Regions from separate parts of the Homo sapiens genome. Here all the other regions are linked to region 3. Evidence: fine-mapped expression QTL. A gene starts in region 3. Each other region holds a variant in brackets. All regions are shown on one strand. Distances are from middle to middle.

Region 1 (4,105 bases), 68 kb after region 3:
TTTAATGGGATCGTCCAACCTTTAAAATTCATTCACCCCTTATATATAAACCCACAGATGTTAAAACCAGAACAAGGATGTATTCACGGAGGAAACAAATTCCATCTTCAACACAGCACTTGCAGAGGTAGAATTAACTCAGAAAGAGGCTGGACAACTTGGCCTGGAACCCACTGTGGGAAACTTTGGTAACTATCAGCTGTGGTTTGCTTTTCTGCACCACTGACTCAGCAACCCTGCAGTTGGGCACTGGGTGAGTTTGCAGTGGGAGAGAACAACCTTATCCTCTCTTTGAAAAACATTTCCACCCACAGGACAGCTTATTGGGAGGACCAGAACTCCGAAAGAATGAAAAAGGAAAATGAATGAAACCACATAGATTTTGTTTGCTCCTAGTGAAACAGGAAAAGGGAATAAGAACCAAAAATTTAGTATCATTTTGCCTGGATGATTTTTTCAGTTAGCTAGAGAAAAAGATTTGATGGCTTTAATAGGGATTAACAGAAGTGATCTTTCAGAAAGTTATAGATACTTACTTTTAGGGTTTTCTTTTCCCCCCAACTAGCTTGTCTAATGTAATATACATCATGATAAATACCTTTTTTTTTTTTTTTTGAGATGGAGTCTTGCTCTCTCGCCCAGGCTGGAGTACAGTGGCGCGATCTTGGCTCGCTGCAACCTCCGCCTCCTGAGTTGAAGTGATTCTTCTGCCTCAGACTCCTGAGTAGCTGGGACTATAGGCACGTGCCATCACAACTGGCTAATTTTTATATTTTTAGTAGAGACAGGGTTTCACCATGTTGGCCAGGCTGGTTTCGAACTCCTGACCTCAAGTAATCCACCGGCCTTGGCCTCCCAAAGTGTTGGGATTACAAGCGTGAGCCACCGCACCTGGTCAATAGATAACTGTTAATGAAGTATAATGTGTTTTTATGGATATATTTCTTTGTAAGCACATTATGGCCTTTCAATTCAAATACAAGTGTTTCTGATTGAAATCTTGAAGGGGCAACATAATTGGATTTGACCAAATATGGGATTTAGAAATGGAAGCAGATTCAGCCAGAATTCCTGCCTAGGACTTCCTGGGGATCAGGGAAGAGGTGAAATGCACAGGAAATGTCTTCTATTGAACGTGAGGGCATGTTGATATCAAAGGGCCCGGGAGGGCCACACACTATGAACGTGATGTCCACATTCTTGGCGGTGCTCACGGCAGTAACGTGCATTTCCTGTGCGGGGCTGCCTGGCTCCGTCATAGCTTGCCGAGTGTCCCAATGCTGTTATTTCCTCCTGAGGCACCACTCTTCTCGTTTCCAATTTTGTTTGTTGTTTTTTAACACTGTAGAGTTTTATTTCAGTCTACCTACTTGATCTCTTATTTCATTAGCATTTTGGGGTGTTTTGAAGGGATTTTATAATACACCCATTTTTCTTAAAACTTTATATCTTTTAGTTAAGTCGATAAATGTTTAATATATACCCAATTATTAAAAACACTTTAATGCATAGCATCAAAGTCAAAATAGATGATACATATTGTAAATTCCATGTTGCAGAAATTCTAACCTTGATTTTGAGAAGTAAAGCTTACTTCTTACAGCTAAGTAAACCCCCAGAGATAAGTGCAGTTTTCACAATAGTCATTAACTACCCATCACCTGTCATTGCAACATTGATGAATTACTGGTGATGATCACTGCTTGAGTGTTCACAGGCATGTAACGATTATGTCCAGTTGAGAGTCAGAAAAAAGCTCCGGGGCCTTTTGTATGCATAGATAATGTATTCTGAATTATTTGGATGAGGCTTTATACCAGTCAGGGATTTTGCTTGCAAACAGTAGAAATTAACTGGCTAACTTGAGCAGAATAGGACCTTTCTAGAAGGATATTGGGCAGCGTTTGGAATGGAGAATCAGGTTTTATTTTATCATTTTTTTTCTATTTGTTTTTGAGATGGAGTCTCGCTCTGTCACCCATGCTGGCATGCAGTGGCATGATCTCGGCTCACTGCAACCTCTGCCTCCTGCGTTCAAGAGATTCTCCTGCCTCAGCCTCCCAAATAGCTGCAATTACAGGCGCCCACCACCATGCCCAGCTAATTTTTTTGTATTTTTAGTAGAGACGGGGTTTCACCATGTTGGCCAGGCTGGTCTCAAACTCCTGGCCTCAAGTGATCTGCCTCCTTTGGCCTCCCAAAGTGCCGGGATTACAG[G/A]TGTGAGCCACTGCGCCCGACTGAGAGTCAGGCTTGTAAAACCGGTAAGACCAAGAGCAGCTAGGCAGGTCAAGGGTCACAGGTACAGGCTGATGTGGACGCCGCCATAAGTCCTGCCATTATCAGACATTGGCCACTGCCCTGGGCAATCTGTCCTGGTCTCTGGGGCCCTGCAGCCTCTGACACTTGCTGTCCTGATGGGCCTTTGGTGCTGTCCTGCTGCTGGGAAACTCCCCATCACTGGATCTCTGTGTCACAGCCTCAAGGGTCAGGTCCTTAGTGTGGGCATCTGTGTTAGCGCCCTGTAGTTGCCATATCAAAGCCCACGTGCCAGGTGTCTTATAATAGCAGAAGTTCACCCTCACAATTCTGGAGGCCAGAAGGCCACAGGGGCACGTACCCACTGAGGCCCTAGGGAGGAATGTGTTTTGTGCCTCTCAGCTTCCGGGGGCCGCGGCAACCCTCAGCTTCAGTGGGCTTGTGGATGTTTCACTCCTATCTCTGCCTCCATCTCCATGTGGCCATCTTCCTTCTGCGTGTGTCTCTGTGTCCAGATTTCCCTCTTCTTAGAAGGACACCAGTCATACTGGATTTAGGGCACACCCTAATCCAGTATGACCTCATCTGAACTTGATTACATCTGCAAAGTCCTTCTTGCAGATAAGGTCACATTCACAGGTACCAGGTTCCAGGCTGAGGCCACATGCCTACGCCACAGCTCCCGGGGCTGGGTTATCTGTACCTCAGCCTTCGTTGGCCGTAGCGGGTGGTGGGTCCCTGCCTCACAGCAAGCCCCACGGAATGGGGGGTTCCCCCAGATAGGAGGGATGCTTGACATTCATAAAAGAGGCTTTCCCCAACTATACGGCTTCTTGCAGCAATGAGATTACACCATTTCCATCAGCACACCAGTAAAATTGAACAATCACTAGGGAATATCTTTAATTCTTTCTTCTGCCTTTCTTTTTATTATCTTGTTTTAATCATGAATGATTGCGGAGAAATGTTGATCTGATGGACTCAAGTTGAATGGAGTCTTTCTCCCATGTGAGGACCGGAAGCCACCCACACAGATCTCTCTTCTATGGGAGGTGTTCTAGGGTCACCTTATTAATCCCAAATTCTGTCTTACCCTGAGTCGGAACTCTTTCAGCAGAAAACTGTATCTCTGTGGCGTTGAATATGAGGATAGGTTCCAGGAGCACCAGTAGACGGAATGTTTGCCCTGTCACAAGCATTTCTCCTGGCCTAGAGACTGGCAGGGGTTCCTGCATCCCTAAGCAGGGACCCCTGCACCAGGCGAAGGACGAGCCCCCTTCCAGCAACGCGGGATGAGCCAGGGCCTCTCCCCTACCCTGCTTGTCCTTCCTCTGCCCAGTACCCTGCGTGGCTGCTCAGGAGAGTGACGTGTGGAAGCCACTCGGGGTGAGCAGAGGGTCTCTTAGTGATGCTGTTTGTTTCCTGGGACGTGGGTCAGGGAGCCCCTACCCTGGTTGAGAACCACTGAGGTAGGCCGGGATTTTGGATTCCATCCCCAAATTAGAGGAACAGAGTGCATGCATGCCTTAGGCACTAGAGGTGCTTCCACTGGGCCCGTTTGCACAAGTCTGGCCTCTCCCTGTCTTTTGCTGCCACCTGTTTATCACTGGTCAAGAGAGGCCACCGAGGCCGGGCACAGTGGCTCATGCCTGTAATCTCAGCACTTTGGGAAGCCAAGGTAGGCAGATCACCTGAGGTCAGGAGTTCGAGACCAGCCTGGGCAACATGGCAAAACCCCGTCTCTACTAAAAATACAAAAAATAGCTGGGTGTGGCAGCAGGAACCTGTAATCCCAGGTACTTGGGACGCGGAGGCAGGAGAATCACTTGAACTTGGGAGGCGGAGCTTG
Region 2 (4,105 bases), 33 kb before region 3:
TTGATGGTGTTCTCCAGCACTGTGATCATCGCGTTTTTCTGCTCCAGTTCTTTCAACAACTCAGCATTTTCGTTCTCTTTCACTTTCAGTTGGGCTTCCAGCTCTTCACATCTTTTCTTTAATTCACTGCTTTTAGAAGTCCCGTCTCCTACAAGAATAAGCCGAGGAAGCAGGTGAAGAACTCATTAGACTGAGGCCGAGTGGTGAGGCCTATGGGGCAGGCGGACCTGTCTGGTGGGGGCCCTGTCTAGGCTGTGGGGGCCATGCAGAAGGCAGGGCTGTGGGGGCTCTGGAAAGACCCCTCCCCTCCCCGAGGTGGGGAGATCGGGGCATCTCAGAGGCCCTTTCCGGCTCTTAGTTCTCTGGCCTACTGCATAAAAGAATGTCTCTGAACCTTAAAGATGCTGAACTTAAAACAGGCAATTGCAGAGTATCAGACCTCAGCAAACACTTAGGATTCAACTGGCCGCAAATCCCTCTGTCTGCTCAGATGGCATTTATGGAATGCCTGCTACATTCAAAGTACTGTTTTGAAACTCAAATGTAAAAAGAATTATCCATGTCTATTGAATTAAAATTCTGATGTTTAGAGGAGAAGAGGTGTGGGGCTGTCACCTTTGCTCTGCCGCTGGCCGCCTCTCTCACCCCCCTACCCCCGTCTCTCTCACACACACACACACACAGACTCTTTCCCACTTCCTGCTCAGAGAGTGAGCTGTCTCGCCTCTGTGGCTCTTACCCTTGGTCCCTCCCTGCCCCTGCCCTAACACTTCGGGCCTCTGCCTCCTTTTGCTGTCCCTGGGTGCCTGCCCTCACCCAGTCCTTCAGCAAACACCAGCCACCTCCTTCTCCTGCTCTTCTGGTGACCTGCAGTCCCTGGTCACCTCACATAGCACCCTTGGCTCTAAACCCTGGGTCACCATCCTACTCCTCCTAACGCTGGCTGGCTGGCCATCCTCCTTGCCTGGCCCCTGGGAAGTTCTTTCTAGACTCTTCCTTGCTGGTCTGGAATTCAACTTGAGCATCAGCTCCCGATTCAGTGTCTCCTGAGCACCACTTCTCCAAGTGAGTGTCCGTCAGACACACCCTCAAGTCCAGATAGCTGCTCTGCTTCCCACATCTTGACTCTCCCAGGGAAACTGGATGCAGTCGCCATCCCTGGCCTCCCCTCCCTGACTGTGCCTTTCTGCTGGCTGCTCAGTGCTGCCCCCTCCCTGCTCCTCCAGCCGGCCTTGGTCCCACCTCCTCTCTGGTCTTCGTTTCAGCCCATCCTGTATTTAGGAAGCTTGGTCACCCCCTAAATATTCTTGTCCTCTGTTCAAAATGGTTCCTCACTGCCTAATAAAACCCAAACTGCCAGATGCCTTCCAGTTCCTCAATCTGTCCTGAATGTTATCTGCTCCCACATAAATCAAAGCTTCCATCACTCTCCCCAAGCCACCACCTCTTGTTCTGTCTCTATTGTACCCTCTGTCCTTGCCCTAACTCCAGACCTGCACGCCCAGTTTCCCTGTACCAACTCCACCACCCAGGGCCTGCCTAGGCACTGGACGCCACTGGACGTCTTTCCCGGGCTTCTGTCTGTCTTGCTTTGAATTTTCCCACCTGCCTGAGCTAGCAGCAGCTCTGCAGCATGTCCCGCCGCCAGACTCTGAGCTTTTGAGGGCCCACAGCTGACTGGACTGGTCTTGTGCAGGACACTTGCATGTTACAAGCTCGCTGCAGGTGATGGGCGCTCCTCGACTTAGCATGGGGTCATGTCCCGAAAAATCCAATGTAAGTTGAAAATACCGTAAGTCAAAAGTGTGTTTTCGATATTTTCAGCTTACCATGGGTTTATCTGGACATATCCATGGTAAGTCGAGGAGTGTACTGAATGGGTATTGCCCCATGCAGTTGAAAAATTTTAAGTTGAACCATTGCAAGTTTCTAGTTTTAAAAACCATGTGTCTGTGTGTGTATGTGCAGGTATAATGTCAGCAAATGACCTCCCTAAAAAGGATGCATGCAGTACTACCTTTCATGAGGTTTCTTCTTTTGCCAAAAGGAAAATAGATCCTAAAACACAGTTTCAGAGGTAGAGAGAGGGACAGAGACACACACACGACTCTGTAGACACTGTAAGACCCAGGAGCCCAGCCACCTGGGCTGAACCCCTGCAACCTGAAATGCTGACCTGGGCACGGCATTGGGCCTGGTACCCGCTGTCCTTCCCCCAGGGCCTGTGGGACAACAACCCATGCCTGTCGCAGGGCCTTTGCTTTCAGCCCACACTCGGGTGGACAGTGGGCCTTGGGCTCCTTCCGAGGAAGGGCTGCAACCTCAGACCTTCAACCACATCCCTGGCCTGCTGTGAGCATCCTGGGATTTTTCTTCCCCCAGGCAGTGCTGCAAAAGGCTGATGGA[C/T]GTTTGGAACATTCAGGAACAAGGCTGTCCCTGGGCTTTGCTCATGTCCTGTGAGGGGCAGCCCACAAAGGCAGAGGGCCCTGGTGGTCGGACTGGGGACTTGGATTTGTGGGGCACCTGTCAGATGAAGATGCAGGTTCAGAGATGTCAAAGAACCTGCCCAAGGCCACACAGCCCCTCCGAGTCAGAGCAGAGGCCCAAATCTGGGGCTCATTAAGCATCACTCTGGTTCTTTTCGCCACAGCATCCTGAGAGAAGCTCCTCCTGGATAGACATCCTCCTCATCATCCTTCCTTGAGAGTCATCTAGCTGTGCTGCCTCCTCCTCCAGGGTGCAGCCTTGGCTCCGGGCTGATGTTTACCGGCCCCGACTTGAGTGGGCCGTCCTGTGGGAAGGAGCTGGTACGACTGCTCCTCCATCCCCAGCTCTGGAGAGCTGCTTCAGTGACTGTCCTTCCCAGGAATCAGCACCTCCTGTTTTGCCAATTTCTTGCTCTTTATAGAAAGCTCCACTCCACCTCCTCCTCTGTACGTACCCCCTTTCTGGAAATTTCAGTCTTCCCATGAAAGCTTGGTGCACACTGAGCTGACAGCAGCCAACTGCTGCTGGTCTCCAAACGCTGCACTGCTGAGCCTGCCCGAGCGTCAGGGCACTGCAACGCTTCTAAACCTGCGCACTCCCTGGGCCCGCCCAGACTTCTGGGGTCACAGCCCCCAGGGGAGGGAAGCCAAGAGTCTATGCTGTACCCTGGGTCCCGAAACTGCTTGGAATTGGGCAGTTTTGGGTGCACTAATGTAAAACAATGATTTTCACCACTGGGAGGGGAGACGCCCCGACTGGAACCACCTGAGAGGCTTTTGAAACTGCCTCCCCTAAGACACAGCCCTTGCTGTGAGACCCTGCTGCTGCTGGGAGTACTACATCAGGTGGGTGGGTGGGTGGGCAGGTGGCCTTGGGACCTCAGGTTGAGAACCGTGACTGGAGAGGCCACAGGGCAAAACTATGCTGCTTCAGATTAGCCTGGGCCAGGAGAGGACAGGGAGCGAGGACGCCCTGGCTTCCATGACACGGGTAGCTCCTTTCCCAAGGCTTCAGTGCTGGCAGGTGTGGACGCTGGAGGTCCCTAGTGTCAGGCTGAAATCCTGTTCCTCTGCATTCCCACAGGCCCAGCTCCCAGTCCCAGGGCTTCGGGGGAGGTCCCTGGTATCCCTCCACAGGGAGACTTCTGAGGACAGGCTCCCATTCCACCACCCCAAGAAGCCCACGGCGCCTTCCCTACCACACGCAGACAAAAAGATGTCTGGGCTCCTGGGTGGCGCACTCAGGAGGCTGTAATATGAGCAATGCAAATGGAAAAAAATCAGTGCTCGGTAATCCACTAAGGCTTGGTGGAAATGGTCTGTGTCTTTTACAAGGAACTGGACACTCTCATGAATAGTAACTGCCATTGTGAGGCCTGTTTAGAAAAAGGCATTGTGGGGAATGGAGAAGTTCTTCAAAGTTTCTTGAAACCATAAAGAGCTTGTCATTTCCTTGCTCTATGTATATCTCTATATATGTTCCAGTGTAGCTGCTCCGCCTTGCCCCGGCACGCCTGCGCAGGGCTGAGCGAGCCCTGGACCATAGTGCATGCTCTTCCTTATTTGGAAACTCTCCTGACCCTCTCATGACTAGCTTCCTCTTTTCTTTGTCCTCTTTC
Region 3 (4,105 bases):
TTTCAAAAAAACCCTATTTGTTAGACCGATGTATTTAAAATGTGTCACAGTAAAAATCTCACACAAATAATTGTCCTGTACTTTAGATCTTAAATGTACCTAAACTAAATTTACTGAGTAATTATAATACGCAGAGGAGTAACAAAACTATTTTAAGATTTTTCAGTGGTGTGTATGGATATGTACGCATACCCGTATATATAATCACGAGTTTTAAAGCCTTCTTCCAAGCATATTTCACATAAGATGAACAGTTAGCCAAAAGAATTACATACATTTCAAAACATCTTTGGAGGTAAAAGCCACTTTAAACGTTAGCATCTTTTTCCTTACAATGCAATAGCGAGAAAATGCATGGGAATTCTTGATGAGCAAAAAAAAAAAAAAAGAAAAGTCGTTTTATCAATACCAATGCTCTTTAAATAAATTTCAAACGTAAAAGTTTTAAAATGGCAATCCTAGTTTTAATACTCTTACAGGTTTCTGGAACTGCGTAATATGTTAAAGTATTACAGCGTGGTAGCTTGCATTTTGTTATAAAACCGACTACTGCAACCTAAGCTACAGAGCGCGGTTATATTTTCTCTCTGGCAGCCTAATTTTCCTTAGTGGACTAGATCGTACTGCTAAATACCAAAACTTGAAATGAAACAATACAGGTCAGCATGAAAACCTAAGTTAGAGAAACTCACTCGCCGTAGCAGACGGCAGCCCAGTAGCCAAGCCTGGAGCTCTGCTGCGTTTGTGCATTCTGCTCCGTTTCACGAATCACAGGCAAATCGTTACTCAGAGTAAACTAAAGCCGCATCAAAGCTTCAGGAAGGGGCTGGCAAGGTAGTGTACTTACGGAAAGGCTACCAGGACGGGAGGCGATACAACTTGTCAGGGAGGGTCTCTAAGGTTCCCCGGGTGGTAACAAGCATTTAAAAAGGCGATGTGGATTCAGACGGCCTCCTCCCCACAGCATCCCAGACAAAGCCGGGCTAGGCCCCGGGGCGCTCCTGGTGCACCTGCAATGCGGATCCCTCGCCCTGCGATCCCACCCCGGGGCAGACAGGAGCGCCCCGGGACCGGCCTCTCCTCCCCCTTGGCACTGGGGTGGGCGCGCGCCGCGGCCGGTCCGCACCCTGGACTGGAGCCCGGGCCGGGGAGCCCCCTCCCCAGAAAGGGCCGGCAGACCCCGCGGGGGCGGGCGCGGGGGTCGCCGAGCCTCAGGGACCCTCTTTCCCCGACTCCGCCGTCTCCCGAGTTGCCTTCGCCCGGGGCCACCCCTGCCCCTGGGGGAGCTAACGTGGCTCCCAAGCCCCGGAGGTGGGGCAGGAGGACCCCGTCCCCCGTCTCCCGGCGGGGAGGGTTTTTAAAGTCTTCGCCACGAACTCCCGTCCCTGCCCGGCCCCTCCGCCCCTGCCCGGCCCCTCCGCCCCCGCCGGCGCTGCCAGGTGAGCGGGGCCGGACTCGACACACCCCGGGCCCCGCCTCACCTGCGGGCGCCGCCGTCGCGTTCCTTCAGGCGGCTGCCCTCTTAGGCTCGGTCCTCCCGGCGGGCGGCGGTGGGGGCCCGTGGCCCATGGGCTGGGCGGGGCGCGGCGGGCGGGGCTGCCTGGGCTCGGGCGCTGCCCGGGCCGGGCCGCCGAGGGAGGTCAGTGGGCACCGCCCGCCCGGCGCATCTCGCCCGCTCCCACCCCAGCGCTAGCCGCGGTGCACCCTGGGAGCGGGGCCGGCGGCGAGGCCTGGCCGCGCTGACCCGGCGGGCTAGGCGCCGGCGCGGCGGCGGGCCTGTGTCTGCCGGGCTGGGCGGGGGCGGCGGGCCGATATTCACTTGGCGAGGCGGGGCTACGCCCCCTTCCGCCCGGCTGTGGCGGGGCAGGGGCGAAGGCCGAGGGGAAGGGAGGGTCGGGCCCGCGGGACGCAGGCGCACAGCTCAGGTGCGGCCGCACTGCGGTTGCCCTGGGTAACGCGGCCCGAGGGAGGGGGGGGCGCGGGGAGGAGCGAGGGAGGCGAGCGGGAGCGCGCGCGCCGGGCGCTGGGGTGGGGGATGGCCGGGCCCGACCGGGCCGGGGCTGGGGGGCGGGGGCGGAGGCGGGCGGTGGGGGCGCGGGCCGGGTGGCCGCGCATGCGTGCGGCCCCCGCTCCCCCGGGGCTTCCCCGGCCTCGTGCGTGCGCACGCGCGCTGTCCCCCGGAGGCGTCTGGGTGTGCGGAGCGCGCGCGCGCGCGGCTCGGAGGCGCACCTGTGAGGTGTCCCTGAGGAGAGGGAGGTGGGTGCGCGGCGCCCGCGGCCTGGGGCGCTGACTCCCCTCACTTGGAGTGAGTTCTCGGCGGCCGGGCTGCAGTCTTTCTTTCTTTCCCGGAGGGAGGCGGGGGCCGGGGGCCAGGGAGCGGGCTGGGGGTGGGAAGGAGGTGGAGTGGCTTAAAGAAAAGAAAAACAACCCATCCCGGAGGATGGGCCTCGGGATGGCGGGGAAGGTCAGAGCGGCTCCGCGCAGCCTGGCGGGTCCCGGGCTGAGAAGCCGCCCCTCGGGCCTCGGGCGGTCGGCCGCGGGCCCGCAGTGCGGGGGAGCGGGGCCGGGGGGCGCAGATGGCGGCCGGTGCGAGCGAGGGCTGGGCAGCGGGCAGGGCGAGGCCGGGCGAGGCCCCTCGGGAGCCGGACTCCCGAGCCAGGCTCCATTGTTGTTGGAGCCGAGGGAAGGGGGAGCGCTGCCGCCCTCGTCGCCCGTGGAGCCGCGTCTTGGAGCCCTTCCAGGCGGGTCCCGGGAGAGGCGGTCATGGCCGCGCCAGGGGACCGGGGAGCCGGGCGGCTGCGGAGGAGCCGGCTGCATGGGGTGCTGTGTGTTTTTCAGGGCGCCCTGCGTCCGGCAGAGGAGGCGAGCATCCCGCTCAGGTGATGAGGAACCCCTCGCGCACCCAGCGCAGAAGGCTGCTGCCGCCGGACGCCTCCATTGTTTGACCACAACAAGGGCCGGATTCTCACCCAGGTAAACCGGCTGCCGGCGCTGTCCACTTCCCTCTGACTCCCGCCTCCGCAGGCGTTCTCACCCCTTCCAGGACTCGACTGCAGTTTTCTCACTGTCCCCGGCTTCTCATGAACTCCGTATACCCCCTCCCAGACATTTTCCCGTCCGGATCCATCTCTCCGCCACATCACCTCTCATTTCCCCCAGAACTCAGCTCCTTTGTGAAACCTTTCTTGCCGAACTCTAACAACTAAATCTCCCCGGGAGCCTGCTCCGAACTGAACTGTTCTGGTTGCTAGATTGCTTACGGGCTGTCTTATTGCAACAAAGGAGACCAGATACCGAAAAAAGATTTCTGAGCTATTGCCTTCTTCAAGGAACGTTTTCTGATATTTACAGTTTATTGTTTTCACAGGCTGGAACGGTTTTTAGGCATTTTGGCTTCTTATTTAGAGAGGGCTCCTATTTCCTTCATAGACGCATAGTTTTTTAGAGCAGGAAATTGACCTTGTTCAACCCGCAGGTTAATTAAAAATTTAAAAATTAATTCTAAATTAGCAGAGTAGTACATTTTCTTTGTAAAAACAGCATATCACAGAGATGGCATTTTGTCTTTGACTATCAACCTCTGTCTTCAGGGATGCCGACTATTATGTGTGTGGTGTTTATCCTTCTAGATCTTTTGGAGTACTTTTACGTGTGTGCACTTAACATCATTTTTGACTGCTTTAACAAGGACTGTTGCACCGTAACTTTCAATGTTAGCATGTAATGCTTCAAGTCATTTTTTAACAACTGCTGCACCATGTTCCATAGTTTCAGTATATCATGGTTTAGCCATTTCCCAAATTGATAGCAGTTTAAGTTTTAACTTTAAAACAGCTTTTTTGCTGGTGGTGGTTCTCTGATGAGATGAAATTTCGGTGATAGGAGCACAGATCTACGCTAATTATCGAGATTCGGCATTTATGATGAAGTTCTCTTTTGGTTAAGAAATTGATATGTGGAAGCAGCCACCCCTCCCCTATGGTAGTTCTGACTCTAGCAGTTAGAAGTTGTGTGACCTTGGGGAGGACATTGAATCACACCAAACCTCGGTTTTCTTTTCTGTAAATGGCCTGCTCTGTCTGCTCCATAGAGTTCAGTGATACAG
Region 4 (4,105 bases), 45 kb after region 3:
TTTCTCGGGCACACTAAGGTGTGAGGACACCTTGGTCTGAGGTCACAGCCACACAGGTAATAAATGACTCAAGTCAGGAATAATCCATCTGGAGAGAGCACAGTCCACTGAGAGGACTGCCTCAGCTCGGCTGTGGCTCTGTGTTCACGGCGAATACAGGCCCACAGCTCTTCTAAGAAAACACCAACCTCGATTTTCACACACAGTTTAATCTTAAAATGTTGGCAGCTAATTCCTTTTCCTTGGGTGATCCATTTTGGTGCTTTCTGTGATCTTCCTGGTGCCCCTTGGCAGTTCCTCCAAGCCCTGCCCTGGCCCCTGCTGACTGCAGCCCATGCCTGGGAAGGCGTGAAGTGCTGTCAGCTGAAGCAGAGGGGGCCCACGTTCTGTGCCGCAGTCAACAGTCTGACTGGCTGTGGCGTCTACCAGCTTTGAGAGACAAGTCTGCATTGCAATTCCACCATTGGGATGGGAGCAACCCAAACTAGCCCTTCTGATGGGGGTGGGGGGTGGGGGCAAGGGTAGGTCATCTGTGATGGGATTCACTCTTGGTGAATCTGCTAGGATTTAGAGTGTGAGCCAAGATAAGTCCAGAATGACTGCATGGTTTCTAACTTGGAAGCATGAATAAACGGCAGATTGCCTCTTGCAGATAGGAAGAACTCTTTGCATCAGAGTCCAACATTGAGATAGTCTACTGCGTGAGAATGTGGGCACAGCTCGTCAGGCCATCTCAGAAATTGAAGAGGGATTACTTTGTGTTGTGTGAGCATGGACATGATTCCTTCCAAGGGACCTTCTAGCTCTTGGCTCTGTTCTTAAAATTTTTGAATTATTTCTCAGTCTTTGTAATGTACTGATATTCTCAGAAATTTGAAAAACTAGGTGAATGGAAAGCAAATATCAGAAGCAGATGGAAAATATACTCAGTGGTAAAATCTAGGAAAAGATGAGAAAGGTTGATACTACTACAGGGCAAGAGCCATATATAAATAGCAAAGCTGAGTTAAGATCTATGGATTAGAGAGGAAGAGAGGAAAAATGAAGATGATAGAGCACTTCCTCTAACCATATTCATTTTCTTAATTTTTCTAAACCTCAAGTTTCTCATCTTTAAAATGGTTTTGAAAATATCTAATTCATGGAAATGTTGGGAGAAGTAAATAAACGTAAAGTGCCTAGCATTTAGTGCTATAACGAATTCCTATTCCCAGTTGCCTATTAAGGAAGAAAGGTCATGTTATTTGGATTCCTTTTTGTTTTGCTGAGCTCTGTGGTGGGTTTGGACATCTAAAATTGGGGTAGGACCTGGAGAGGGCTGAATTGCTCCACATGGTAAGAGAGAGAACTTGAATCTCCTGGGGTAGTTGGAGGTAAGAAAACAAAGGGTAGACTTGGAGTGGGAGAGAGGACCAGGGAACCAGTGGAGTAGGATGGTCTGAAGTTCTGAGCTCTTGTGTAGGAAAACTTCGTGACCACAAAGTCTTTCCCTAAAGTTAGGGGTGTTTGGCATGGTGGATTTCTTATGGAAACTGGTGGAAGGGCTGAGTGCTGTATCCAGGGTGAAATGGGGCAACACGTAAGTACCACACATAAATATAGGAGCCAGAAGAGGGTGCCCCTGAGAACAAGCTCCAAGGAATATGCAGAATATGCAGAAATCTTCAGGGTAGCTAAAAGCTGCTACAGGCCATGGAATTAATGGAGTTTTGAGTCAAGTTTACCCAAACCCCTAAGGGGCAGGGAGGCCTGGGATATCTTTATTTCCACTCTCAATGTACATGAAGTAGAATAACTTTATAATCATAAGTAAGTTGAAACTTAAGAATTTTTTTTATCATTCTCATTTTAACATATTACAAAACACATGAACAAATCCAGAGATCCCAAGGCTGTGTGTGTGTTTATGCCAGTAAGAACTTGTCATAAATATCGGTGGAAAATGACACTTTATACCAAAGCAATTTTATTGCTCAGATTTAGGCATATGTAAATAAACTGCATTTCTAGAGTAAAGTAGCACATACAGATTTTGTGTATTTTTAGGCGGATGTATGCATTTTATAGACTCTGTACCTTCCTAAATACTGTGTCTAAATATGGCTTCGCTGAGAGACCGACTTTCCCTCCCCCTCTTAATTCTTTGCTGGCCCTGATCCAGGTCTTCTCTGCATCATGAATTATGGTGGGGGTGTTGTATTTACAGAATTTTAAAACCTAAGACCTGCAGACGGCTTTTGGGGAGGTCTAGAACCTTTTTAAGTTATGTGCAGAATTTTGTGTACCTGTAGGTCTATGCATTTTTCTAGGAAAGGGGGCTTTCCTTATGTTTGTGACTCTAAGAGA[T/G]AAAGAACACTGGCTGGCATATGGTTACTCGTTGTTTGGGGATCTTGGGAGGCAAAAGGGGTGCCTAAGAGTTCCAGTTAGTGGAATGGATAGGAAATGATGGGTATAATAAACGGAGGAAAAAACACAACGCTGTGTTGTGAGGAAAGAGGGAAAAGGACGTTGGCATAAAATGGAAGGATACATGTGCATGTGTTGTTATGCTGGGCCCAGGAGGTAGGCTGTGTGGCAGTTTCGATGTCATACGCTTAAGACAACAGTTCTGCGAACAGTGTATTAAAAGAATATAGGTGAGGACAATTGAGTATTCAGAGGGGACTGGCTGGACGTGGACGGAATTGGCTACCTGAATGGAAAACACTAGATCTCAACTGAATCTGTCTTGGTTACAGAGGAGGCAGTTCTTGCTGTAAAATGGGTGAGGGCCCCAGTACTGGTGTGGGTTGTATTTAGGTTCTCAAATAGACCTATTCATATTGCTCAATGCCATGTTCTCTCATGTCTAATTTTTATGTCCTACCTCACTTGCCTGGGATCTCTGACTGTTTAAGTCAGTCCTCTTTAGTCTTCATCCTGTCTGTCCCCAAAATGTCTTTTTTTTTTTTTTTTTTTTTTACCCCTGATACTCTTCCATCCTTGTGTGCCCCCCGCTCCCCTTTCTGAGATAAGGTCAAGACCCACAGGGACTTAGTCTCAAGGGTAAGTCCTGTTTCTACAGTCTGTGGAGGATGACGGGAGAGTCTGGTAGAGCAGCAAGCCCTACTTCCTGGAGCTGTTGTTGCCACATTGTTATAGTTGAAACAGGCAGTGTCTGGAAAGAACTGAATCCTCTGTGTTTTGCTTGCCTCACTTGATCCAGTAAACATTAGGAGAAGAAATTAAAAAAACAGGAAAGGATAAGATGGCAGGAGTAAGTTGAAGCATATTGTTAATCATAGTAAATGTGAACTGGTTAAATTCAGCTACTTAGGGACATTTTCAAGTTGATTTGTAAATGACGTCACAAACGTGTATATGATGGTTATGGGAGACCACCTAAAATAAAGGGGTGACCCAAAAGGCTGACAGTGAAGGGGTTGAAAAAGATCAGGAAATGCTAAAAGAAAGCAACTGGTGGTAGTATTGTCAGTCCGTTTATGAAAGGAATAATTTGTCAAGAAGATAGTTATATACTTTCATTAGCTCACAACATAGCTTTGAAAGATAGAACATGGTAAGAAATTAAGCAATTCCCAGTCACAGCAAGATATGTTAACCCTCACCCATCAGAATTTGAAAATCAACTAGACAAAGAAGGATCTGGCTATTTAACTAACACTGTTACCAAACTTGATGTGTCCACTGTGTGTGAACTTTGTGCAGCAGATCCTCTTGGAATGGTCATAGAAATTAGCCATGCTTTGTGCCAGAAAGGAAATCTCACCAGATTCCAAAATGTAGAAATCTCACAGGTCATATTCTCTGACTATAATGTAATAAAAAATTGAAGTCACTGAGAAAGAGCCAAAAGTCCTGTCCATTTCATCCCAAGTTACAAATAAAGAGGAAATCAAGTGTAGTAGAGATGAGTGGCAGAGATGGCACTGTGGGGCACGTCTTGTGGATGGGGCCGAAATGAAAAACTTTCATAGCCTTCAATTCATTTATGAGATAAGGAATATGAAACTAAGCAGTCAAACAAGCTGGAAAAAATACTGCAGGATTTTTAAATTTTACCAAATGACTTTTGGGCCTTCACCAAGATCATCATATGCTCCTG
Region 5 (4,105 bases), 25 kb before region 3:
CTCTTCTTAGGCCTCTCTCCCACCCACCTCTCCTGGGTCTCCACTGTCTACTTATCCTTTAGGTCTCAGTACAAGTTTACTTCCTCCCGGAAGCCCTGGCCCCCAGACTCGGGTGCATTACCACCCTGTCCCCAGTTCTAGTCTTTGTGTCTCTGTGAGGGTCTGTAAGTGTGGGTCTGTTTCCCGCCTCCTCGCACAGACTCCAGATTGTTCACTGCTGCACCCTAAGCCCTAGCACAGTGCCTGGCACCCTGGAGGCCCACGAATGGGCCTGGTGCCAGTCTGTTGAGTGCAGCTGTGGTGCCAGAGGAATGTAAGGGCTTCAGGGTTGAAAAGCTTTTGTTTCCATGGGCTTCCTATTTAGGTGCTTCTGAGAAGTGACAGCCTGCTGGCAGTCCTCACAGCCCTCGCTTGCTCTCAGCACCTCCTCTGCCTGGGCTCCCACTTTGGCGGCACTTGAGGAGCCCTTCAGCCCACCGCTGCACTGTGGGAGCCCCTTTCTGGGCTGGCCAAGGCCGGAGCCCGCTCCCTCAGCTTGCAGGGAGGTGTGGAGGGAGAGGCGCAAGCAGAACCGGGGCTGCGTGCGGCGGCGCTTGCAGGCCAGCTGGAGTTCTGGGTGGGCGTGGGCTTGGCGGGCCCCGCACTCAGAGCAGCCAGCGGGCCGGCCCTGCCAGCCCTGCCGGCCCCGGGCAATGAGGGGCTTAGCACCCAGGCCAGCAGCTGCAGAGGGTGTACTGGGTCCCCTAGCAGTGCCAGCCCACCAGCGCTGCACTCAATTTCTCACCAGGCCTTAGCTGCCTTCCCGCAGGGCAGGGCTCGGGACCTGCAGCCTGCCATGCCTGAGCCTCCCACCCACTCCATGGGCTCCTGTGCTGCCCGAGCCTCCCCGACCAGTGCCGCTCCCTGCTCCATGGTGCCCAATCCCATCGACCACCCAAGGGCTGAGGAGTGCAAACGTACGGCGCGGGACTGGCAGGCAGCTCCACCTGCAGCCCCGGTGTGGGATCCACTGGGTGAAGCCAGCCGGGCTCCTGAGTCTGGTGGGGACGTGGGGAACCTTTATGTCTAGCTCAGGGATTGTAAATACACCAATTGGCACTCTGTATCTAGCTCAAGGTTTGTAAACACACCAATCAGCACCCTGTGTCTAGCTCAGGGTTTGTGAATGCACCAATCGACACTCTGTATCTAGCTACTCTGGTGGGGCCTTGGAGAACCTTTGTGTGGATACTCTGTATCTAACTAATCTGATGGGGAGGTGGTGAACCTTTGTGTCTAGCTCAGGGATTGTAAACACACCAATCAGCACCCTGTCAAAACAGGCCACTGGGCTCTACCAATTAGCAGGATGTGGGTGGGGCCAGATAAGAAAATAAAAGCAGGCTGCCCGAGCCAGCAGTGGCAACCCGCTCGGGTCCCCTTCCACACTGTGGAAGCTTTGTTCTTTCGCTCTTTGCAATAAATCTTGCTACTGCTCACTCTTTGTGTCCACGCTGCTTTTATGAGCTGTAACACTCACTGCGAAGGTCTGCAGCTTCACTCCTGAGCCAGTGAGACCGCGAACCCACCAGAAGGAAGAAACTCCGAACACATCCGAACATCAGAAGGAACAAACTCCAGATGCGCCACCTTAAGAGCTGTAACACTCACGGCGAGGGTCTGCGGCTTCATTCTTGAAGTCAGTGAGACCAAGAACCCACCAATTCCGGACACACTTCCTTTACAGGCACACCTTGCTCAAAGAAAACGGGATATACTAAAACATCCC[G/A]AAATGAGATGACCACCTCACCCGCCATGATGGCACAAAATGGGATGTGCCTATATGTAGATGTCAGTATTTTCTTCTACGCTCTCCCACGGGGGCAGAGGGGAATGGAGTACAAATGTTATCAGCAGCCATCTCTATCATAGTGTGGTATTACATTTCATTTGTAACAAATTTAAATATGATTTAGTAAGTATTCATACTCTAACTGCCTTGGTCAATCAGCAACTTTGAATTATAACAACGCTGTGTGTCATTAATCCACTCTGTTAACTGCAGAAATACAAAAGCGTCCTTAAAGCGTCCCATTATAATGGGCAGACAGCCTGGAGAAGAAACGGCAGGCGAGCAGGGAGAGTGTGACCATGTAACGCGCAGAGCTCCACAGTGAGCGCTGGTGAGCCACTCGGAGCCCTCACAGTGGGGGACAAGGGTCTCCTGGCCTGGGGCATTTCACTGACTGTCGCTCTCCCCTTCTTCCACACTCTGTGCTGACTGAAAAGGCCCTGACATGGAGACGCCATCTGTGCAGGGCATTCTACAGCTGTTAGGATATTCCTGAATAAGGCAGGTCCACTTGGGGCCAGGGAAACAAAACACATCTCCAAATGGCATCCAGATTACTCAATTATTTTCTCATCAGCTCAAAAGAGTAACAATATCACTGGCTTTCTGAGGGCAAAAGAGTTTTCACGGCTGAAAAGACAGTGGTGTTTTCCATTGCGATCCTTCACTACTGAAGAGAGGTAATCATTGTGATGATGTCATGCTCCCAGTACTGTGACATGACTGAAGCCACCGAGGCATCCTGTTTAGGCTGAGGAGACCCAGCCGGGAGATGCACATAATTCAGAGGGAGAAATGGAGTTGGTCCCAAGAGGCTTAATTCAGTATCAGAGATGCTTTAGAAACATGAAGGAGCATTCAAGACAGATCCCTAAAAGGGTCAGCGTGGCAGATGAAAGGAGAAAGGCAGGGCGTCTGCTGCAGATGAATAACGCCGCCTGCTGAGTAAGGGCACTCACCCCATCTTAGCTGTGTGTCAGCCAGGAATGGAGGGCAGCTCATCCAGCCCGTTTGGCAAAACGCTTGCACTTTCTGTGTCAAAAGGGCATACGCTACAAATTGTGTGCTCTTTGTACTGCAGCAGTCCGTCCTGAGGCAAATCCAATTTTGTTCCTAAGCGTTGCTGAGAGCCATCCGCAATCTTACAGTATTTGCTCAACCAAAGGCGGCAAGGCCAGGACATTGGTCTTCTTCCCTCCTTGGAGATGCTGCCCACAGCTGCAGAAAATGGGGCTCCAACTGACTATCACTTCAGGGCCTGGTCACGGCTGCCAGAGGGCCAGCCCCACCCAGGTGACTTTGCACAGCTCTGCTAGTTTTTCTCCCCACAGAACGCCAGCAGAAGCAATGCAAATGGGTACCTCGAGGGTCAAAGTCCTGCTGAATAGGTTACCTTGATCAGGGCTCAAAGGTTAAGCCACACGTACAGTTTTTCCTATGGCAAATCCACTAGGTAAATTAATTTACTGTTCACTCTACTTGTTCAGAAAGTTAATACTCAAAAAAGGCTTTTCATTCCAAATCCTATAGAGATAGGCTCTGAAGACGTGGCAAGACAGCTTCCTGGATGGGGAAGCGCACTGCCGTCATTTCCTAGTGTCAACGTGTCTGAGGAAGGCCCGGCCTCGCCGAGTATGCTCTCCAGCAGCGTGAAGACAAGGGGCCCTATCAACAGCTCAAGCCGAATTCCATCTTCATTCCAAAGTGCTATCCCTTCCTCTCAGGGCATTAATGTAACATGACGACATAATTCTATCCATGGACCACCTGACTTGCCCGAGCACAGTGTTCTTTCACGTTACTTACATCATTTGCTCTTGCAACCCGCCTCTGGGGAAAAGAGGACACTATCCCATGAAAAGAGAGAACATAAACCAATAAATGCATCTAAGCCTTGCCGCTTCTCCTAGCCCGCAGGTGATGTGGTGACAATCCTGACGTCTGGGGCAGATTTAATTTCATGCAGAAATTCAGATGTTTTCCAAGTTGTGCACATCAAGTCTCTAATACTTTGAAACTGCAGAGGAAACGCAAACACAGCCCACTGAAGTAGCCTTTTGGCCCGGAAGGGAAAGCAGCGTTCCTCCAGAGTCCAGAGCACAGGGCCAGGCCGTCAGAACAGCACTGCTCGCACGGAGGCTGGATCCACTGGCTCTCGAGGGTCCACGTTAGAAAATCACACAGCTGTAAAGGCACTGCCGACCACCCAATACGGCAAAAAGACTCACTAATGACTCTTGCTCGTAATACCAGCAAAGGTTCCTAGGAAGCTGG
Region 6 (4,000 bases), 110 kb before region 3:
GAATCATGTAATTTTTGTCCTTTTGTGTCTGGCTTATTTCACTAACAGTGTTTTCAACATTTATCCATGTTGTGGCATGTGTCAGAATTTCTTCCTTTTTAAGGCTAAATTTTATATATATAGTTTTTTTTCACACAATGTGATCAGGTGACTCAAATATTTTGTTTTGAGGCATCAACCATCAGAGGTTCTTTCCTCACCTCACCTTTTTTTTCTCCTGAGTCACACTTAAAAAAAAATTAAATTAGATATTGCAGGGATAGGATTTGGATCCTCTGAAGCCTGTAAGTTGTATATGTTGTCATTAAGCCAAACACGTATTGATTGGCAGAGTCCTGCTGAGAGTGTAAATGCCCAGAGCCTCCAGACCTGGGGGGTTGCCTCGGGTCGGGCAGCTTCAGGGTGTCAGGCTACCCCGGAGACCTCAGGCCTGGGCAGTGGGCACCGGGTACCGGCCGTGGACGAGAGCTTTCTGTGCTTTTCCTGACCCTGATTTTCTCTGGAGTTGGTTGTTGAAAAAGATGTGTTTTCTGGAAGGAATATAAAATGGTGCAGCCACTTTGGAAAACAGCCTGGCAGTTCCTCAACAGGTTAAACCGAGAGTTACCATAAGACCCAGCAATTTCACTGCTGGGGATCTACCCAAGAATGAGGACGAACGTCCGCTCAGAATTGTTCATGAATGTCCGGAGCAGCATTATTCATAATAGCCAAAAAGTGGGAACAACCCAACATCCATCAGTTGATGGATCCACTGCTGAAACAGAATGTGGTCTGTCCATCCCATGGGATATATTTTGGCCATAGAAAGGAATGCAGCACGCGTGCTACAACATGGATGAGCTTTGAAAACATGCTAAGCGAAAGAAGCCAGATGTGAGAGATCACACATTCTAGGATCCCATTTCCATGAAATGCCCAGAATACGCAAATCCGTAGAGACAGGAAGTAGATGAGTGGTTGCCAGGGGCTGGGGGAAAGGGGATTGGGAGAGATGGGTACAGGGTTTTTTGTGGGGAGGGGTGATAAAAATGTTCTAAAATTGCTCATGGGGATGGTTGCACAACTCTGTGAATATACTGGAAACCATTGACTTGTACCCTTTCAAAGGTAAATTGTATGGCGTGTGTGTTGTATCGCAATAAAACTGCGTCAGAAAAAAGATAATGTTTTAGCCCAGCTGCCATTGTTTGTCCCGCAGGTGGATAAAGTGGTTCAAATGTTCGAGACCATGTTAACCCGCCACACGACGATGGTGGTGGGGCCCACCAGAGGGGGCAAGTCCGTCGTCATTAACACTCTGTGTCAGGCCCAGACCAAGTGAGTATGACCTCCGTAGGGAGGGCCTGGCTGCCACAGGGGCTCACAGTATATGTTTGGTGCCAGTATTACCAAGTCCCACTTTGCTCTCTGATTTCCTGGGAGGGTAAATTTGTAATACACACCCCTTTCGACTCAGCGTGTTTTTACTGACTTTATTGCAGACTTAGTTAAGATATTTTAGAATGCAAAATAGCAACCCGCTTGTGCATCAGATGGTGAATAGGTTCATTTGTGAAATGAGAATTTCACAAACTATCTTATAAGGATATTTTGAAAATGAATGTAAGTCATAGTTTCTTGGGGTCCAAATTGCTTCCTTAAAGTAAGTCAGGATTCACCTTATGCAGTACTGCTGTGGTTTCGCAGTGGCCAGAAAACGAATGTCACCTCCCCGGGTGCCTTATAATCGCTAGCCCTTCGGGGGCAATTCTTCACGAAGGAAAAAGTGATCGTACACTCCCACATTGAAGATCGTAAAGGAGCCAGGCATGGTGGCTCACGCCTGTAATCCCAGCACTTTGGGAGGCCTGGGTGGGAGGATCCCATAGTCCAGGATTTTGAGAACAGCCTGGGCAACATAATGAGACTCCGTCTCCACATTAAAAAAAAATTAGCTGGGTGTGGTGATGTGCACCTGTAGTACAGCTACTCAGGAGGCTAAGGAGGGAGGATTGCTTGAGCCCAAGAATTTGAGGCTGCAGTGGGCTAGGATTGTGCCACTGCACACCAGCCTGGGCAACAGAGTGAGACCTTCTCTCTAAAAAAAAAAAAAAAGGAGAGTATGTCATAAAAGCCTGCAGTGAATTGAAAGCCTTCTACTGAAAGTGGATTCCTGACTCCTCACTTCTCTTCTAAGCAATAACTAGATTCCAGAAAGACCTCCGTGGATGC[T/C]GATAGCCCGGCAAAAATCTAAATCAAGCCAAAGTTTCTGTGACTTAAACATTTCTAGGCAGTCTATAAAATCTAAAGAGTAAGTGTCTGTCATATGTTCCCATTATTTCTTCATATGTTTCATATGAGAAAACCAGTCGACAGTGGCTTACTGACTCTAAGTGGGCTGTGCCGTGGCCATCTGCATTTCATTCTTTAATTCATTCATTGTAAGTTTATAGAACTATCACACAGTTGTATGCATGTGTAATATAGCATGTACATTATGATTTACTGATTCGTTGGTTGTGAACTGTGGAGTGTGTGAAGTTTTGTTCTCTATAGATGAATTAATCCTATAGTTAGTGCTGCAGGGATTTACAGGCACTGTGGTGAGAAATGCCCTGTCTGCTTGATTCATGAAGTCAACAGAGCAGCTGTTGTTCTGTAGATAAGGAGGATTGAACATTAGTAGTCCAAAGCCTTGTTATTATCGTGGATGACTGAGTGTGGTCTCCTATACGCCCTTAATTCTGAGATATTTACTTAAATGTCATATATATGAATATGTAATATGCATAAATATGAAATATACATGAAAGTTAGCTTCTTGGTGCCCTCCAGAGGCAAAGCTGTGCTTCTAGTTCAGACTTCATTTGTGCTGTGGCCACATTTTTGGTGAAATGTGGTTGCTTTATATTTAGAAGAAAGCACTAACAGTGAAGGGAAGCCCAGTGAAGAGTTTGCATGGGTTGCATTTTCAATTTTGGATTAAAGTCAAAACATCTAATTCCTCATAGAGGGAACCCAGACTGTTTTCCTCATGCATTTAGTTGTCTTGAACCATGGCTAAAGCCTCTCTTGATTTAGGCTTGGGCTGACGACAAAGTTGTACATCCTGAACCCCAAAGCCGTGAGTGTCATAGAACTCTACGGCATCCTGGACCCAACCACCCGAGACTGGACAGATGGGGTGTTGTCAAACATCTTCAGGGAAATCAACAAGCCAACAGACAAGAAGGAGCGAAAGTGAGTATCTTTGTAGGTAGGAAAGAGCCTGGGTTAGTTAATGTTAATTAGCTCAACATTAAAAACGGTGGCAGGACTATACATTGTAGCTTCATGCTTGGATTTCAACAGACTTAGAGTCCAGTCTTGGAGGCTGTGCTTCGGAAGTGCGCAGTCCAATCTTAGTGCTTTTTATGTGTGACCTCAGTTGTCTTAGTGATGCAATGTGGTAGGTACCGGGATTGTTCCCAGCTTACCACAGAGGAAACTGAGGCCTAGAAAAGGTCAGAAATGTGGCCCAAGGCCAGGGATTTGGCCCTGATCTGTGTGACTCTAAGTTCTCAAACACAGCCGCCATCAAGCTGCCTGATCACCACGTTCTATGGCAAGGTAAGTCAAGGAAAGGTAGCAAAGGGCCATGGAAAGTGCAGGAATGCCCTCCTGAGCCACGGCTTTCCATCTGTAGACGTGGTTGATGGTGCCCTGATGACATCACCACATGCCATGGCAAAGGCCAAGTGAGGCCAAGTACAGAAATGCTCTGAGGGTGTGTAAGGTAAAAAGCTTTTAGTTGGTCCTATAATATCTCTTTGCTAAACTCAGGAATGGTTCTGATTTTATGTTCTAATCAAATCCCATTAATAATAAATAAAATCCTTAAATAACAAGAGTCCAAAGTCCCAACTCATGGCTTTTAAAACAGCTTCTTAGCGCTTTTCCCCTGATTCTGGATGAACCCAGGATTCCACGCTGAATTCCGTTGTCTTGTTTTTGGCATTCTTTAATTTTGAGCAGTTCG

What was found. PIP is the estimated chance that this variant, and not a neighbour inherited with it, causes the effect.
Region 1: its variant is fine-mapped to the expression of CCDC92 in whole blood (TOPMed, PIP above 0.99).
Region 2: its variant is fine-mapped to the expression of CCDC92 in whole blood (INTERVAL, PIP above 0.99). The same link has a PIP of 0.9 or more in nasal epithelium.
Region 4: its variant is fine-mapped to the expression of CCDC92 in whole blood (TOPMed, PIP above 0.99).
Region 5: its variant is fine-mapped to the expression of CCDC92 in whole blood (INTERVAL, PIP above 0.99).
Region 6: its variant is fine-mapped to the expression of CCDC92 in tibial artery (GTEx, PIP 0.98).

The regions. Positions count from the first base shown.
Region 1 is chr12:124,039,272-124,043,376 of GRCh38, forward strand. All of the region lies in intron 2 of ZNF664-RFLNA (ZNF664-RFLNA readthrough), which reads left to right. Among named protein-coding and RNA genes, the nearest start is that of ZNF664-RFLNA, 68 kb to the left of the region's middle. The variant G/A (reference allele first, on the strand shown) is at 2,218.
Region 2 is chr12:123,937,683-123,941,787 of GRCh38, forward strand. CCDC92 (coiled-coil domain containing 92) reads right to left here. Exons shown (of 5, transcript NM_025140.3): 5 at 1-148. Among named protein-coding and RNA genes, the nearest start is that of DNAH10OS, 4.8 kb to the left of the region's middle. RefSeq lists enhancers at 367-867, 868-1,368. The variant C/T (reference allele first, on the strand shown) is at 2,407.
Region 3 is chr12:123,971,048-123,975,152 of GRCh38, forward strand. CCDC92 (coiled-coil domain containing 92) reads right to left here and starts at 1,784. Exons shown (of 5, transcript NM_025140.3): 1 at 1,482-1,784. It overlaps ZNF664-RFLNA (ZNF664-RFLNA readthrough), which reads left to right and starts at 2,168. Exons shown (of 5, transcript NM_001347902.2): 1 at 2,168-2,256; 2 at 2,839-2,973. It overlaps ZNF664 (zinc finger protein 664), which reads left to right and starts at 2,168. Exons shown (of 5, transcript NM_152437.3): 1 at 2,168-2,305; 2 at 2,839-2,973. RefSeq lists enhancers at 531-1,268, 1,269-2,006 and silencers at 1,227-1,346, 1,377-2,246, 2,317-2,396, 2,507-2,736.
Region 4 is chr12:124,015,622-124,019,726 of GRCh38, forward strand. All of the region lies in intron 2 of ZNF664-RFLNA (ZNF664-RFLNA readthrough), which reads left to right. Among named protein-coding and RNA genes, the nearest start is that of ZNF664-RFLNA, 44 kb to the left of the region's middle. The variant T/G (reference allele first, on the strand shown) is at 2,347.
Region 5 is chr12:123,946,392-123,950,496 of GRCh38, forward strand. The region is part of intron 1 of CCDC92 (coiled-coil domain containing 92); the gene reads right to left. Among named protein-coding and RNA genes, the nearest start is that of DNAH10OS, 13 kb to the left of the region's middle. The variant G/A (reference allele first, on the strand shown) is at 1,769.
Region 6 is chr12:123,857,949-123,861,948 of GRCh38, forward strand. It overlaps DNAH10 (dynein axonemal heavy chain 10), which reads left to right. Exons shown (of 79, transcript NM_001372106.1): 38 at 1,202-1,320; 39 at 3,064-3,222. Among named protein-coding and RNA genes, the nearest start is that of DNAH10OS, 75 kb to the right of the region's middle. The variant T/C (reference allele first, on the strand shown) is at 2,215.